4 linked regions of the Homo sapiens genome follow. The protein of the gene in region 1 interacts with the protein of each later gene in a pairwise test. Each region holds a gene or a part of one and is shown in the gene's direction. Other genes may lie near its edges.

Evidence for each region.
Region 2: the proteins of AGTR1 (region 1) and SAE1 interact in a two-hybrid assay, tested with the Homo sapiens proteins (one large-scale study listed by BioGRID and IntAct).
Region 3: the proteins of AGTR1 (region 1) and SERINC3 interact in a two-hybrid assay, tested with the Homo sapiens proteins (one large-scale study listed by BioGRID and IntAct).
Region 4: the proteins of AGTR1 (region 1) and CCDC25 interact in a two-hybrid assay, tested with the Homo sapiens proteins (one large-scale study listed by BioGRID and IntAct).

What each region holds. Positions count from the first base shown.
Region 1 is NC_000003.12:148,703,731-148,708,589, forward strand, and holds part of AGTR1 (type-1 angiotensin II receptor), read left to right. Parts: intron 1-4,213; 5' UTR 4,214-4,297; intron 4,298-4,859. UniProt on the Homo sapiens protein: Receptor for angiotensin II, a vasoconstricting peptide, which acts as a key regulator of blood pressure and sodium retention by the kidney.
Region 2 is NC_000019.10:47,203,835-47,207,334, forward strand, and holds part of SAE1 (SUMO-activating enzyme subunit 1), read left to right. Parts: intron 1-3,500. UniProt on the Homo sapiens protein: The heterodimer acts as an E1 ligase for SUMO1, SUMO2, SUMO3, and probably SUMO4. It mediates ATP-dependent activation of SUMO proteins followed by formation of a thioester bond between a SUMO protein and a conserved active site cysteine residue on UBA2/SAE2.
Region 3 is NC_000020.11:44,519,271-44,523,412, reverse strand, and holds the start of SERINC3 (serine incorporator 3), read left to right. Parts: upstream 1-1,342; 5' UTR 1,343-1,461; coding exon 1,462-1,500; intron 1,501-4,142.
Region 4 is NC_000008.11:27,745,141-27,748,640, reverse strand, and holds part of CCDC25 (coiled-coil domain-containing protein 25), read left to right. Parts: intron 1-42; coding exon 43-146; intron 147-361; coding exon 362-564; intron 565-3,500.

The sequences.
Region 1 (4,859 bases):
CTCTATACTGGGCTACCTACTTTTTAAGGCCAACTAATTATTTGAAAATTTATTTAAAGTTTTAATTTGAGATCAAAATCTGTTTCCCTCATAAATTTTTTTTAAAAAAAGCAAACAAGATCTATTCCATTTTGATCTAATGTTTTCCTGTCACCTTACCTTTAAGTGCAATAATGGGAAATTCTAGAAATTCCTTCTTTAACTGTTTGAAAAAATACCAAAACTATGACAGCCTGTCCAAATCCACTAAAATATATTTTTATATGCATGCTTTTTGTATATCAATTATACTTCAATAAAGCTTTTTAAAAAAATAGTAGATGACATACTTTTAAAAATTAACTTTGGAGCCCAGGTATGGTGGCTCAGACCTGTAATCCCAGCACTTTGGGAGGATCACTTGAGGCCAGGAGTTTGAGACCAGCTGAGGCAACAAACTGAGACCCCCATCTCTACAAAAAATAAAAAATTGCCAGAGCATGGTGGCGCACACCATGTAGTAGTTGGGACCTGTAGTCCCAACTACTCAGGAGACTGAGTTGGGAGGATTGCTTGAGTCTGGGAGGTGAAGGCTGCAGTGAGCCATGATCACACCACTGCACTCCAGCCTGAGCAACAGAGAAAGACCCTGTCTCGAATAATAATAATAATAATAACAACTTTTGATATCTCTATTTTTTCCCATAAAAATCCAAAATTTTCTGTTTACTTTTTGGTGCTCTCATGCTATAAAGTAAATTCTCCCTTGGATTGGACAAGTTATTTTCTGTTTTCTACATACACATAGACTGTTCAGCATTCCAACTCAAATTACATATTACTTTTTCAGCTTTTAATATAAATGCTTATTTACTACAAGCATGGTTTACAAAAATGTAGTAAAATATAGTTACTAACCAGTCAATGCTCAAGCCAGTGACTCCCCAAATGATTCAGTCCCTGAGCTGTTTCACCCAGTGCAGGTAGATTCTCTGACAGCCATCAGTTGGATCTGTCCGAATATCTCCTGTTTTGACAGGGGCTTATTGATGTTGGTCAAAAGACAGGTGTGTATGGGTTCCCTGGGATCATGTTTGAGGGGAAACCTGTGCCAACAGGACTGAGCAGCCACTTTTTCAATGGTATTGAGAAAATTTGTAGGAGATAAAATTTCACCAGCTCCTTGAATCTAGAACTGTAGATATTCAGGTAGCACTGACATTACAACATCTAATTTGTAAGTTATGGGTTAGGGCAAAATCAATCCAGGGCTGCCATCATGACAAGTAGTGGAAGTTTGAAAGAAGGAGAAATACCCAAAAGATATCTTACACATAGCAGGCAGAGTTTCTTAGTACTAATAAAAAATAAAGTACCAGTGATCACCCTCTATAGCCCCTAAGAGTCCCCTGGTTTCACTAAGCCCCAATATTTGTGGCTGTGGCTGAATGCAATCTGCACAAGGTTTTCTTTTTAACAGTTGGAAAAAATCTCATAGCATAGCATTTTTTTCTTTTTAACAGTTGGAAAAATTCTCGTAGCATAGCATTTTTTTCTAGTAAATTTCATATACTTAACAACTTTATCAGCACATATATTTTCCTTCACACTTACAATTTCATCAACACATATACTTTACTTTTTGACTCAAATTCTTCTTGCCATCAATTCAAATGCTCCTGCCCTTAGAATGAGAATTTTCCATTAACCCAGCTTTAATAATCTAACTCTCCCATTCAAATGATGTCACTTCATATAAAACACATTTTATCATGATGTCTCCCAGCCCTCAGTTACACAGTTAATTGCTGCCACTTTATCATGAATGAAAAAGATGTGATTCTTGGGTAATGATTTCTTGAGTATGTCCTGGTCTATTATCTACTGAGTTACCAGAGTGGATTTTTGAGAGAACACACAGTTATTCCTATTCCTTTTAATTTCCATTAACTTAAGCCATATGATAGAACATTACAGTTGTTATATATTTTGTATAAATATAAAATGTAATATATAATTTATATATTTTAAAATATTTAGTGGCAAGTAAAGATAGTAGTAAGTGAAAAAATCACTGTATAACATATGAATCGTAAGTGTGATCCCATGTATGTGTATACCTGGTAGATGCTTGTCAAGGTGCCATTAAGGTCTTGGGTTATTGGCATCTTAATGAAATTCATTTAATTATGTTAGGATTGATTTGTTAGTAAAATCACTTACATGTTTTTTAAATGCATGCATATCTGTGGAGCCAATAAGAAAAATTAGGAACAATATACAACAAATCTTAAGAGCTTTTGAGGATGATTTTTTTTCTTTCTTTCTTTTGTATGTACCTACAAAATTTTCTATAATGGATCTCTATTGATTTTATATTTTTTACTTTCTATTTGTCTTGGAATTTCTATTACTTTATTTATAATTCACTCTAGATTTTAGGTACTAGACAACTACTATTAACTCTCTGGAGAATGGTACTATAAATCTGACCCTTTCTGTCATTTTTTTTTCCTGTGGTACACTAGTGTCTCACAAAGAGTCCACAGAATTCACACGGTCATGATATTTTATAGAAGAAATCATTTTATGGGAACTTTCTTTTGTTAATAGATCCTTCCAATGCTAACATTATTCTGTATAACAGTGCTAAAGTTGGTATGCCTAAATGCTAAACTTGGTATGCTAAAGTTGGTTTAAAAATTAACCTATATACAATCTTCTTGAATAACTCTTCAACTTTAAATAAATTTCTTATTTAAAAAATCCTCCTATATATAATTAAAAATACTGATGAATTTGACTACATAAAAATAAATGCTTATACAGTAAAAAGTACCATAAACAAAGTTATCATCTAAACAAGAAACCTGGGAAAGCTATTTGCCAGCCATTACATGTAAAATTTAAGTTTCCTTAACATAACATGAGCTCTTTAATGTGAGAAACAATAAACAACCTAATTGAAACATGAGCAAAAGCCATGGCTGAGAAAACTCGTAGAAGAATTACTATGGAAACAATAAGAAAATGAAAAGAAGTTCAACCTCATTCATAATTAACGAAATGCAAGTCAAAACAAAGATATACCTTTTACTTATCAGATAAAGAAAAAATGATTTGATAAAACCCAGATTCTTGGTATTATAAATTGGTATAACCTTAACGGAGGACATTTTATGAATATCTATCAAAAACTTAGCATATACAAACAATTTGGTTCAACAGTCTGTTAGAATTTATTATATAGATACATTCATATAAGTACAAAAGTGCATATATGTAAATATTATTATTGGGACATTTTTGTAGCAGCCAAAAGGAAAACTGAAAAAAAAGATTAAGGCTCATTAATAGCAGACTGGTTAAATAAACTATGTGTGAGTACAATGAATGAAATATTGTACAGCCATCAAAATGAATGAGGTAGATTTATATATGCTGATGTAGGAAATCTGCTAGCCATCATAAGTAAAATAAATGAAACAAAGAAGAAAATACTATGATGTACAAAAAGAAAAAACTATAGATATACATATTTATATGCATGTGTATGCATTTTTTATGAATATACATATTTATATGCATGTGTATACAAGTCCTAGAAGGAGACATAGGTAACTATTAGTAGTACCTCTGGGAAGTAAATGCAGAGAAAAGTAATAGAGGGTAAGGATATGTTTACTTTTATTTTACATCCTTCTGTAACTTGACATTTATACGACGCGTTAGCATTACTTCTGGGAAAAAGAAAAACAGAAAAGGTAATCTTTTAAAAAGGTATTTTTTAAATTATGGTACAATAAAATGTGCATAAGCTTTATACTAAGTAATAGAATCATTTAAGTTTAGCTGTAGATTCACAAGTAAAAATCCAATCTATTTTCATATTCTTACATTTATAGACATTTCTTACATGTCTATAGAAAGAAATGGCTAGGAATGAGACTGCACTATTTTACCCTAAAACGTTCTTTTTCTCTTTGCCTAATGTATATCTACAAGGGCATTGGGGAAGATGTTGACCACAGGCAGGAAGATGATGAGATCCTGTGCCCACCACTTAATGCAGTCTAGCTCTATATAAGGAAAAATATGTTCTTGATGTGAACCAGATGGTTTCACTCCCTTCAAAAACACTCTTAAGATGCAGTGTGGAAGCTTACTCTGTAAATTAAAAAATAAAAACCTGACTATATTCAGTGGAATGCGTTAATCATTTTTTTCTTTTTAGGTTTGATATTTGACAAATTGATCTAAAATGGCTGGGTTTTTATCTGAATAACTCACTGATGCCATCCCAGAAAGTCGGCACCAGGTAAATGCCTTACATCTACAGCAGTGGGTCTGTCAGCAGTTTTCTTTAATGTGTCAGCAGTGGGGAGAGCGCAAAAACCCACACACACCATTATCTTGTGAAAGAAGTAGAGGAAGCAGAAAATAATGAAATCCCAGTGTTACCACATCCCCTCCAATATACAGATTAAGAGCGTTTGTATTTATATGGTTTTAAACATAAATAACATCAGAATTACTAAGCTATTTCCATTCATGTACTGATAATGAATCATGTGAGAAAGTCCTTTGGCAAGGACTCCACATGGCCACAGGTGATTCCTTTGAGCAGTGTTCTTCCTGTATAGGGCTTAAGAGGACCAGAAGGGAAATGATTGTACTCTCTTGTCAGCTACTTCCTGGGCGATTTGGGTTCTTTGATACCCCAGTGCTCACTTTCGGAAGTGTTAAGACCATAAACCTTAACAGTTGACCTTCTCACCTTCAGAAAACCCAAATGTCTCGGAGTTTCATTCTCACAAACTTCCACCTTCCTCCAATGATGAGATATAGGAAAAAAGACAATGTGAAATTGGAGATGGAGG
Region 2 (3,500 bases), on another chromosome or scaffold:
TCTCTCACCCCATTCATCTTTGTTTCATGCCCTCCCCATTTCCACCTCATCCCATTTTCTCTGGCCCATCCAGGTGCCATTCAGCAAATGACCTTGGAGTGCCTGCTCTGTGCTTAGCTCACAGTTGGCCATAGTGCCTCGAAGGTGTGATCTGCTCTCCCCTAACTGTATTAGTTATCCAGTGCCTGTTGTATTGGTCAGGGATTCTGCTTCTCATAGCTCTATAAGTGAGTACTATCATGATCCCCACTTAAGAGGAAGACACTTGGGCCCATGAAAGGGACTCCAGAACCTGTGCTCTTAACCTCTGTACAGTTTATCTCTATTCATCACCATGACATCAAAGCCCTCCCTTTTTTTTTTTTTTTTTTTTTTTTTTTTGAGATGGAGTCTCGCTCTGTCCCCCAGGCTGGAGTGCAGTAGCACGATCTCAGATCACTGCAAGCTCCACCTCCCGGGTTCACGCCATTCTCCTACCTTAGCCTTCCAAGTAGCTGGGACTACAGGCGCCTGCCACCACGCCCAGCTAATTTTTTTGTATTTTTAGTAGAGACAGGGTTTCACTGTGTTAGCCAGGATGGTCTGGATCTCCTGACATCGTGATCTGCCCACCTCAGCCTCTCAAAGTGCTGGGATTACAGGCATGAGCCACTGTACCCAGCCGCACCCCCCCCCTTTTTTTTTTTTTTTGAGACAGAATCTCACTTTGTCTCTCAGACTGGAGTGCAGTGGCATGATCTTGACTCACTGCAACCTCCGCCTCCTGGGTTCAAGCGATTCTCCTGCCTCAGCCTCCCGAGCAGCTGAGAGTACAGGTTCCCACCACCACACCAGGCTAATTTTTGTATTTTTAGTAGTTCACCATATTGGCCAGGCTGGTCTCGAACTCCTGACCTTGTGATCCTCCCACCTCAGCCTCCCAAAGTGCTGGGATTATAGGTGTGAGCCACCGCACCCGGCCAAGCCCCCGTCTTTTTAACCACACACTGTAGGTATTTGTAGAGAAATCAGTTTCTGTGTCCCCATGAACACACCAGGAGCCCCTCAAGGCTCTGTACAGGATGACCCGTGACCCTGTTAGGTAGGTGTTAGTGTGTCTCTCAGAAGGGAAGCATCTTATACAGGGTCACATAACCAGTAACTAGCACAGCCTTTTGAGGGTCTTCTGGAACATTTGGGTTGCTAAAACTATACCATACCCCCAAATATATTGTACATTCTTTGCAGACTTTGCTATTTGCCCGAAGATGTTAAATTTGCCTTTTGCAGGTTCTTGGCTGCCTTCGTGGACTCCGGTGAGGCTTTTTCCTTCTTTCTTATGGAGCAGAGTCGTGCCTGGTTAAATGATTGGCCATGTCCATGTACATGTCAAGTTTGAGCTTGGGAGGACAGTTTGGAGGCCAGCCCTTAACACTTTGTCTTGGGGTCTGTACATTCTGGAGGCGTTTGGCTCAATTTGTTAGTCACACCGTTTTCCTAAGGCTACTTTTTTTTTTTTTTTTTGTCTATTTTTTCTGATCCTTCTCTCTGGTCTAAATTCTTCCTTTGATCAAATCTAACTTTCTTCTATGTAATGGGCACCGAGGAGATATTTGGAGGGGGAAGAAAAGTGTGCAATGGCCATACCTCTTTCCTTGCTCACATTTTATACATAGCCCAGAGTGATGTGAAAATTACAGTTTATATGCCCAATCTGAGAAGAGGGTAATGGCCACCCAGAGGACTGTTCGAGCAGGATTCTGAGGCTCCCTGTAGACAAACTGCAGGAAAGAGTGCAGCAATGGGAATGTTCTAAGTGGGGAATGGGAATGTACATATTTTTGTAGCCTAAAATGACGACACCACCAATAATAGACAAGACTTACTGAAAGCCCACTGTCTGCCACACAAAGACAGTGTTTTTTACGTGGATACTCATTTCATCTCCCACCGGCCCTATGAGGTAGGAACTCCTGTGATCCCTGGTTTATAAAAGAGAGACTAAGGTGCAGGAAAGAAGATGCTTGCCCAGGCTAGTGAGTGTGGTGCCAGGATGTGGGCCCAGGCAGTCTGGTTTCTGAGCCTGTCCTCTTCACCACGGGGCAGTCATGCATCAGGTGTTGCCTTCAATGGCACCATCATGTAGAGACTGCATGGACCCCAGGGCCGCTGCCCTTGCATTGTCAGCCTTACTTCTGCACATCCCATTGAGGGGCTCCCCCTAAATTTTTCATGTGGGATGGAGACTGGAGGTTGGGGCAGGTAGCCTTGACCCCATTGTTGGTGGTAGTTTCTCACATCCCCATCCTCACACAGCCCCCTCCTTCCTGCCTGCTGGAGACAGCTGGTGCCCAGCATCTTGTTTCTGTTTATCCCAGATAGCCAGAGTACTCTGCATTCTTCGTTGCTGGGTGTGTTTGGAATCTCCTCCTACCCCATCTTGCTTGGGAAGCACTTTACCTTTTGCCCCATGTCACCCCATGCCCTGCTCTCATCCCCAGTACTCCTTCATACTTATTACTGGTCAGCCTTCAGCCAGCTGGCAGGCGGGGCCTGCAGTCCAAGGGCCTCAGACTCACCTTTCTCTCCTGAGGCACTGTCTGAGCGCCTATGGAAAGCTTACACTAGGAGATGGGTCAAGCGCAAGTCTGCTCCTTTGGAATCATCTTTTGCGTCTTTCCTTTCTTACGTCCTTCTAGATACCCTATTTTATATCCATGTCTACTTCCTTGGGTTTAAAGCAGTTTTCCTTTCTCTCCATCCCCACCGTCCACGGCAGGTCTCCCTGTCTATGGTAAGAGAGGTGATAGTGAAAGCAGCAGCCATCCCAGGTTCATGGTAAAACACATACCATCTCCTGTATCTTGGGTTTGAGGGTCTAAGAGTTCCACCTGTGTACTGTTGGACCCTTCCACCTGGCTAGGTTGGTGGCATCCCCAGTATTGGTAAAGGACTCCTGGCCCTATTATTATTAATAGCAGCTCCTACTTACTAAGAATTTACTACGTGCTCGGCACTTTACAAGCCTAGTCACATTTCATTCTCACCAAAACTCTAGCAGGCAGGTGCTTTTTATTTGCCTATTTGCCCAGAGAAGCAAACTTCTTTCTGATCCAAGCTCCATGTGGACAGAGACCTCAGAATCCTTAATGTCTAGCTGAATACCTGGCATAGAGTAGATGCTTAATAAATGTTCCCTTGACTGGGTGCAGTAGCTCATGCCTGTAATTCCAGCACTTTGGGAGGATTGCTTGAACCTAGAAGTTCAAGACTAGCTTGGGCAACATGAGGAGACCTCATCTCTACAAAAGTCCCAGCTACTCAAGAGGGTATGGGAGGATATCTGGAGCTGGGGAGACGGAGGTTGCAGTAAGCCGAGAATGTGCCTCCCACCTGGGTAGCAGAACAAGATCCTATCTCAAAAAATTAAAAACATTTACAAATAAATAAAATTTCCCTGGAAAAATGGCTGACTAACACTATTTGTATATGGTAGATGTGATTGTCCCTGTTTTATGGAT
Region 3 (4,142 bases), on another chromosome or scaffold:
GAAGCAAGAATGTTAAGGACTACCTGGAAAGTTCAGTGGTCCTGAAGCAACTTGACTTGAGCTGGTATTTGTGTATGTGTGGTGAGGAGAGGGATCTGGGAAAAGAGAGGTAGGAATTATTAAATGTGAGTAGTTCTCTTTCTTCTTTCATCAGCCCTTTTCATGGCCTTGGGCAAACTTTGAGCCTCATTCCATTTCTGTAAAAGATGAATTTGGAATACATTTTCAAGGAATCCAGGAAATAACATCCCCAAATATGCCACACTGGTATGATGATTGCTTGGGGAACAGCACATGGAGAGAGGGGCTTTTCATGAATTTCCCTTATCAGACTAAAGGCTGACAATCCAGAAGGAATTCAATTATGAATCCCCTTCCAGAGAGTTTTATCTATCAGGGAAGATTAACACACCACAGGAGAAGATATTGAAGTGTGACACCTTGTTGTCCGGACATCATCATTGTTTGCCACATTCCACCTAAACTATTATATGTGTAAGTAAAAAATGTTTTCATTTTCTTCTTTAAGTGAACTCTCAAATTTGACATGTATTTTGAAAGGAATATTTACATCACTGCTTAAATGGGAAATCAGCATTGCTCGGAAGAAATGAAAAGGTTATTGCTAACACACACCTCAAAACAAAACAATATTTTAAAACTGCAGGCATGGTTGCCTGTTTGAGAGATCTGGAAAATGAAGGCTTTACTCTGTTAGAAAGGGAGATAAATACTAGAAAAATGTTAAATACCATACTGGCCTCAAACAACTAGCCTGTTGGTTTGAAATGGGACGTTCTCACTCTGCTGTTTAATATCGCTTAATGTCCTTCATGCACCCTTAGAGCCATTCATTTTTCCCAAATGGGGTGCATCCCACATTTTAGGATACGATTTCCATCGTTTCTAGGTTAATTTGGACTCATCCTTTAGTTCGCAGATTAAAAAATAAATCCTTCAGAGAAGCCTTCCAAGACTACTGCCCAGCTAAATTACTTTCCCCTTACAATAGGAGGCACTAAATACACCTTTATTGAAAGCCTATTCCCCCATACTACTTCATCGTATTCATTACATTGGGGCACGGTGCATTTATGTTGTCAGATCTCCTATTAACTAGAGAATAAATTCTGAGCGTACTGTGCCTCTCTGTACACTTCTGTAACTTCCAGATCTTTGCACAATGAATACAAATGATGTAAGGAATGACACCTTCACAGTTCCTGCAACCCCAGGATGGTTTAGCCCCACCTTCCCCCTCAGCCAATGACAGGCGCCCCCCTCTGCCGCTCCGGTCGCGGACGGTGGGCGGGGCCACGCCGTGACGCATCCGTGCGTCTGTGGAAGGCTGCGTTTCCGGCCTGAGAAACCGTCATGTTTCTGGGGAGTCACCTCAGCTGGCAGTTACCACCGTGTTAGAAAGCAGCCTCAGGACCGGCCACCTCCATCACTGGCGTCACCATGGGGGCTGTGCTGGGTGTCTTCTCCCTCGCCAGCTGGGTGAGTTCGGGGTCCCGAGTCCTCGCCGGACCTGCGGTTTGCGGGGAAAGGCCTCGAGACCAGAGCTGCACGGGCCTTGGCTCCAGAGGCTCTCGGGATGTCAGCAGGCCCTGGGCTACAGAGGGTCTCCGGGGCCCCAGACGCAAATCCGCGATACCCTCAGGTCCAGCTTAGGCGGCTCGCCCTCCGGGTTCCTCGGGGAACGGAAGAGGCTAGGCCGCCATTGTTTACAATTCGGATGGCTCCGCCCTGCGAGGCTTCCTGACTAGGTTCCTCTGGAGCTGGAGAGGGACCAAGGAATGACAGCTCCCAGCGAGGGGCTCCGGTTCCTCCCGAAGCACCTCTTAAGGTGCCATCATTTAGTTCTAGGTGGCTCAAGTAATATTTTTATCCCCTAGCACGGGATTTGCCAAAACTACAGAGTGTGTGGCAAAGCTGGGGTTTTAGCGGAGGCTTGTCTGCAGTTCAGGTGCAAGGGAAAGAAGCCCTTGTGGATTGTTATTCAAAATTGGAAACCAGGGCCTGAATATTTTGGGACTGCTGTAAGTCATTTATCCGAGGATAATCACCCCAGCATTCCTCTCTTCGAGAACGATTGTGACAGTGAAGTGAAGGTTTAATCACCTTGTAAACTGTAAACATTTTAAAGAGAAAATTATAGGGCCTATAAAAGAATATGCTGAGTTCCCTCATTTACCCACTTCAGAGGAGCGTGATTCCTTGATTCCTCATTCTCCAGCTGATTTAATTGACCAAGTGTGTAGAAAAAGCACACTCAGTTTCTCCTGCTGTACTCACAACACACTTTTGACACCTGATGTGTGGTGTGTGGGGATTTTCCCCCAAACATCAGGCAAACAGTCAGCTCTGCAGGGGATGCCAACTTGGTGCCCTACAAGTCAATTCCGAAGCTCTCTACTTGGAGATAGCATCAAATCACACAAGTGGAGGGCTCAGTCTCACAAGACTGTGCCCACTTTCTGTGCCAATGGCAAGCCTCAGGTTGTTTTACCTGTGCTTCTGACCGGCCACCTATAAATCAAAGTTCCCGTGACCTCCCTCCTTGGCTTTGATTAATTTGGTCACAAAACTCAAGGAAACATGTTTACTGGTTTATTATAAAAGTATTTTATTTTGTGTATTTATGTATTTTTAATTTTAGATTCAGAGGGTACATATGCAGTTTTGTTACATGGGTATATTGCCTTATCGTGAGGTTTGGGTTTCTAATGATTCCGTTGCCCAAACAGTGAACACAGTATCCAACAGGTAGTTTTTCAACCCCTATCCCCCCACCGTCCTTCCCCACTCTTGGACTCTCCAGTGTTTATTGTTGCCATCTTCGTGTCTGTGTTCCCAGTGTTTAGCTCCCACTTGTAAGCGAGAATATGCTGTATTTGGTTTTCTGTTTCTGTATTAATTCACTTGGGATAGTGGCCTCCAGCTGCATCTTTGTTGCTGCAAAGGACATGATTTTCTTCTTTTTTTATGGCTACTATTAATATATTTTTAAAGATACAGATGAAGTGATATGTAAGACAAGGTGTAGAGGGAACGGGTCTGGAGCTTCCATGCTCTGTCTGGGGCAGTGGCGCCATCTCGGCTCTCTTCAACCTCCAAGGGATTCTCATGTTTCAGCCTCCCGGAGTAGCTGGGATTATAGTGTATGCCACCACGCCCAGCTAATTTTTGTATTTTCAATAAAGACGGGATTTCGCCATGTTGGCCAGGCTGGTCTCGAACTCCTGGGGTGTGAGCCACCATGCCCAGCCAAAAGTTCTTCTGAACTTTGTCCTTCTGAGCTTTTATGCAGGCTTCATTATGTAGTCAGCATTCATTAAATCATTGGCTTTTGGTTACTGACCTAACCTTCAGCCCCTCCTTGGAGGGTCAGGGGTGAGACTGAAAAGTCCCAACCTCCTACTATGACCCTCACCCATCATGAAGCCACCTAGGGGCTGCCAGTCACCAGTCATCTCATTAGCATACAAAAAGACGCTGGTTATTCCAAGGATTTTAGAAATTGTATGCCAGGAAATGGGAACCAAACATACATATATTTGACAGTATTACACCAAGGATTCTGTTTCAGCTCTTTCTACTATTTTTCTTTTTTTTTTTTGGAGGGGGACAGAGTTTTGCTCTGTCACCCAGGCTGGAGTGCAGTGGCTCAGTCATAGCTCACTGCAGCCTTGAACTCCTGGATTCAAGTGATCCTCCCACCTCAGCCTTCCCAGTACAGGTGTGTGACACCATGCCTGGCTTCATTCCACTATTTCTTAGGAACAGAATGTATTTTAAGGTTGTTGGTCCTAAATCAAAAGAGTGTTCCATTTTTAAGGGCTTTCTTGAGAGCAGTGGTTTTCTAATTATTCTGACCTTGACCTAAAGAAAGATTGTACATAGTTGATCTGTGATCTGATGCACCCATATAGAGACAAAGTTTTATGAAATAATCGTTTACTGTACAATTTTTCTTTTATCTTCTATCACATTAGAAAATCCTGGTGAGTTGAAGGCCAGGCATGGTGGCTCACGCCAGGATGGTCTCAATCTCCTGACCTCGTGATCCGCCGGCCTCCCAGAGTGCTTGGATTACAGGTGTGAGCCACCGCGTCTTGCCCGGCTTTTACTCTTAAGTT
Region 4 (3,500 bases), on another chromosome or scaffold:
GTCTCATCCTGCCTGCATGTTGAAGACAGTCTCTCTTGGCAGGCTGCAAGATGAACAACGTTAATGTGGTATATACGCCGTGGTCTAACCTGAAGAAAACAGCTGACATGGATGTGGGGCAGATAGGCTTTCACAGGCAGAAGGATGTAAGTGTTTTGTGCCACTGAAGGAGGCGGAGCCCTGATACTGAATGGAGTATCCTATCTTTTCTGTCTGACACCATTGTTGTTGAGGGCTGAGCATGATATATGTTTTCTAAAGGGAATTAAACTGGGTTGCTAAACCCCTGGAAAGCCTCATCCCTCTTCTGGGAGAAAAAAAACAAAAAGATGCAATATCTTTTCTCCTATCTCCCTTAAAGGTAAAAATTGTGACAGTGGAGAAGAAAGTAAATGAGATCCTGAACCGATTAGAAAAGACCAAAGTCGAGCGGTTCCCAGACCTAGCAGCAGAGAAAGAATGCAGAGATCGTGAAGAGAGGAATGAGAAAAAAGCCCAAATTCAGGAAATGAAAAAGAGAGAAAAAGAAGAAATGAAGAAGAAGAGGGAAATGGATGAACTTAGGTATGTCGGAGCTGTGGCATTGAGACTGACCTCAAAGATTATTCCCTGATGATTTTAATCATGTATTAGCCATTAAGAACGATATATTGGTGGAAGGAGGGACATGTAACAAGCTCAGCTTAAGCTCAACCTTAAATCAGTTTTTTAAAAAAAGGCATTTATATTAATGTGTTGGTTAAAAGAATTGCTTGTTTATGGCAGCAGGATATGAAAGTGGATGAAATAAAATAACTAATTTTATTCATAGAGAAACCTTCATAGGTTATCCCTAGTTTGGTTTGGTTTGTAAAGTTCTTCTGGAAAGGAAAAGGTGCTGTGGGAGGTATTTACTATTGACTAGCTGTGCTATTTAAGTAAAGTTGTGTTGGCTCTAAAAACCAATGCTAGTAACTCTCAAAGCTGTTTTTAAAACTCTTTTTTACATTTTGAAAGTTTAAAGTAATGTAGTGAGGTCTGCTTCAAAGCACTACATTTTTAAACAGCTAAATAGTTCAAATACAATTTGGCTCCTGAAATTCTAGTGAAGAAGGCCATGAGAATAATGATTATGTTAGTTTTCTATTGCCATTGAAACAAATTGCCACAAATGTAGTAGCTTAAAACAACACACATTTATTGTCTGTAGATTAGAAGTCCAGCAAGATTCTCACTGGGCTAAAATCAAAGTGTCTGGAGGCACTAGGGGAGAATCTTCCCTTTCAGCTTTGAGAGGCACCCCCATTTCTTGGCTTGTGGCTCCTTCTCCAAGCTTTCCATGGTCACAGCCCCCTGTCTGACCACTGCCTTTTCTGCTTTTAAGGAACAGTGTGATTAGATTGAGTTAATCCAGATAATTCACAATAATCTCTCCATTTTAAGGTCCTAACTAATGACATCTGCAAAGTCTACTTTGCCATAGAAGATAACATATTTATAGGTTCTACAGACTAGAATGTGGATGTTCTGCCATACAGTGCTGTACCCGCAGAGCCCCTAGTTGTTCTAATTAAAGGAAATTAATCCTGCGAATTCTCATCACAGAACTCCTAGATTTTTCCATGTTTGTTTATTTGCAATACATATGCCAAAAAGAAAAAAGAGTTACTTATAACATATATTGCCTTTGGAAATGGTGTAGAATCAGAAACATGTTGCTTAGGCATGTCCTAACCCAGTTTCCTTGGAATGCCCTGGATTCTTAGAAAGATTGTTGGGTCAGAATGTAGGTATAATGAACACGTACTGTTATTTATTATTCGCATGCACGTGTTTCTGGTTGGGGTTCTGCTAAAACAGGCTTCACTTAAAATACAGTGTTCAAATGGAGAGCTTCAGAAATGTTACCCTGAGTTACAATCTGCTAATATGAGGCCAACTAACATATATGTTTAAGTATTTGGTATGGCCTAGAATTCTGAGTCTGCTTTGTGTTTGAAGTGAAAGAAACGGTATTAACTCCATCAGTGAGGTAAAATTTGTGAAATTCTGAGTGATGCAGGATTTAGAGCAGTTAATTCTTTTTTGTTTTGAGTTTGGAGTGGGGGGAAACTGAAAATATGCCTTTTAGTGCCCTTTACGGATCGAACATAATTTTGTTTAGGAACATGATGGAACATATATTAGGAACATAAGATCACCTAATTTACTTACAACATTGAATAAGGAAGACTAGCTAACCCTTCTGAACATTTTCCATCTGCCAAACACTGCATTGCAAAGTGCTTTACTGCATTCTGTCATTTAATTCCAACAATAGCCATAGTAGATTTTTATCTGCATCTTATAGAAGAGGAAACTGAGCCTGAGAAGCAATCAAGAAACTTGTTATAAGCTCATTTGGCTAGTTAGTCTCAGTCTGATTCTCAAACCTACACATATTACTTACTATACTCTTCTTCCCTTTGTTCAATTTATTCCATTTTAAAGTAATTTTTATTCAATATAAATCAATCAAGTAATTTATAGATGTCATAATTCAAATTAAGCTGCATGCTACTAAAATTAAGGACATTAGTATGATTTTTATGAGTTTCAAAAATTACAAGCATTTAAACAAAATTTGTCCACCAAAACACAGTTTCGTATCTTCTGGGCTTTTTTCCATAGTGTCATCAACATATAAAATACTCCTATTAACTGAAGGGAAAACTCAATCTTATTGAATAAGATTTTTCCTTCAAAAGTTTAATCAGTCCCACTTTCTAAGTTGTCACTGGTCATTTGTATTTTTTAATAATCTCCATGGATCTCAGAAAACCAAAAACAATTGCTATGTTTATTTCCGTTAACCGTGTGCCACACAGACAACTTTCTGTCACATGCTGCAGAAGACAGAAGAACGTGGCACAGGGCTGCAGTGCCGGGAATGGAACGCGGTGACATTGCAAGTCTTTGCTTGGCACATCCAGAGCTGCCGTTTGCTGTGTTCTGCAGCATCTGTGAAATTCCAGCAATAGGCTCTAAGCTTCTGACTTGTTTTGTAATGTGTTTTTATACATTTTGCAGTGCTAGCATTCACTTTAATTTCTGTCTTTGAATCTTCCACCCAAGATATAGAAATCTGTGTCTATTACCTGTTTTAATTTTGCATTCTTTTATTTGGCTTTTTGTGTTACTGTACCAAACATTTATTACATCAAAATTAAGTCAACCCATGTAGATGTCGAAACCAGAAGAAATAAGCAATAGTCAGGGAAACGTCATAAAGAGGATGGGTGAATAACAGATGAGAGGTTGAGGCAGTCAAAACAAAGGGTAAGGACTATGACTACCTGAGAGAGGGATATTTAAAAGTTGAGATGCGGCCAGGCAAAGTGATTCATGCCTGTAATCCCAGCACTTTGGGAGGCTGAGGCAGAAGGATTGCTTGAGCCCAGGAGTTTGAGATCAGCCTGGGCAACAAAATTAGGACTGTCTCTACAAAAAATCAAATAACTAGCCAGGCGTGGGTGGTACAA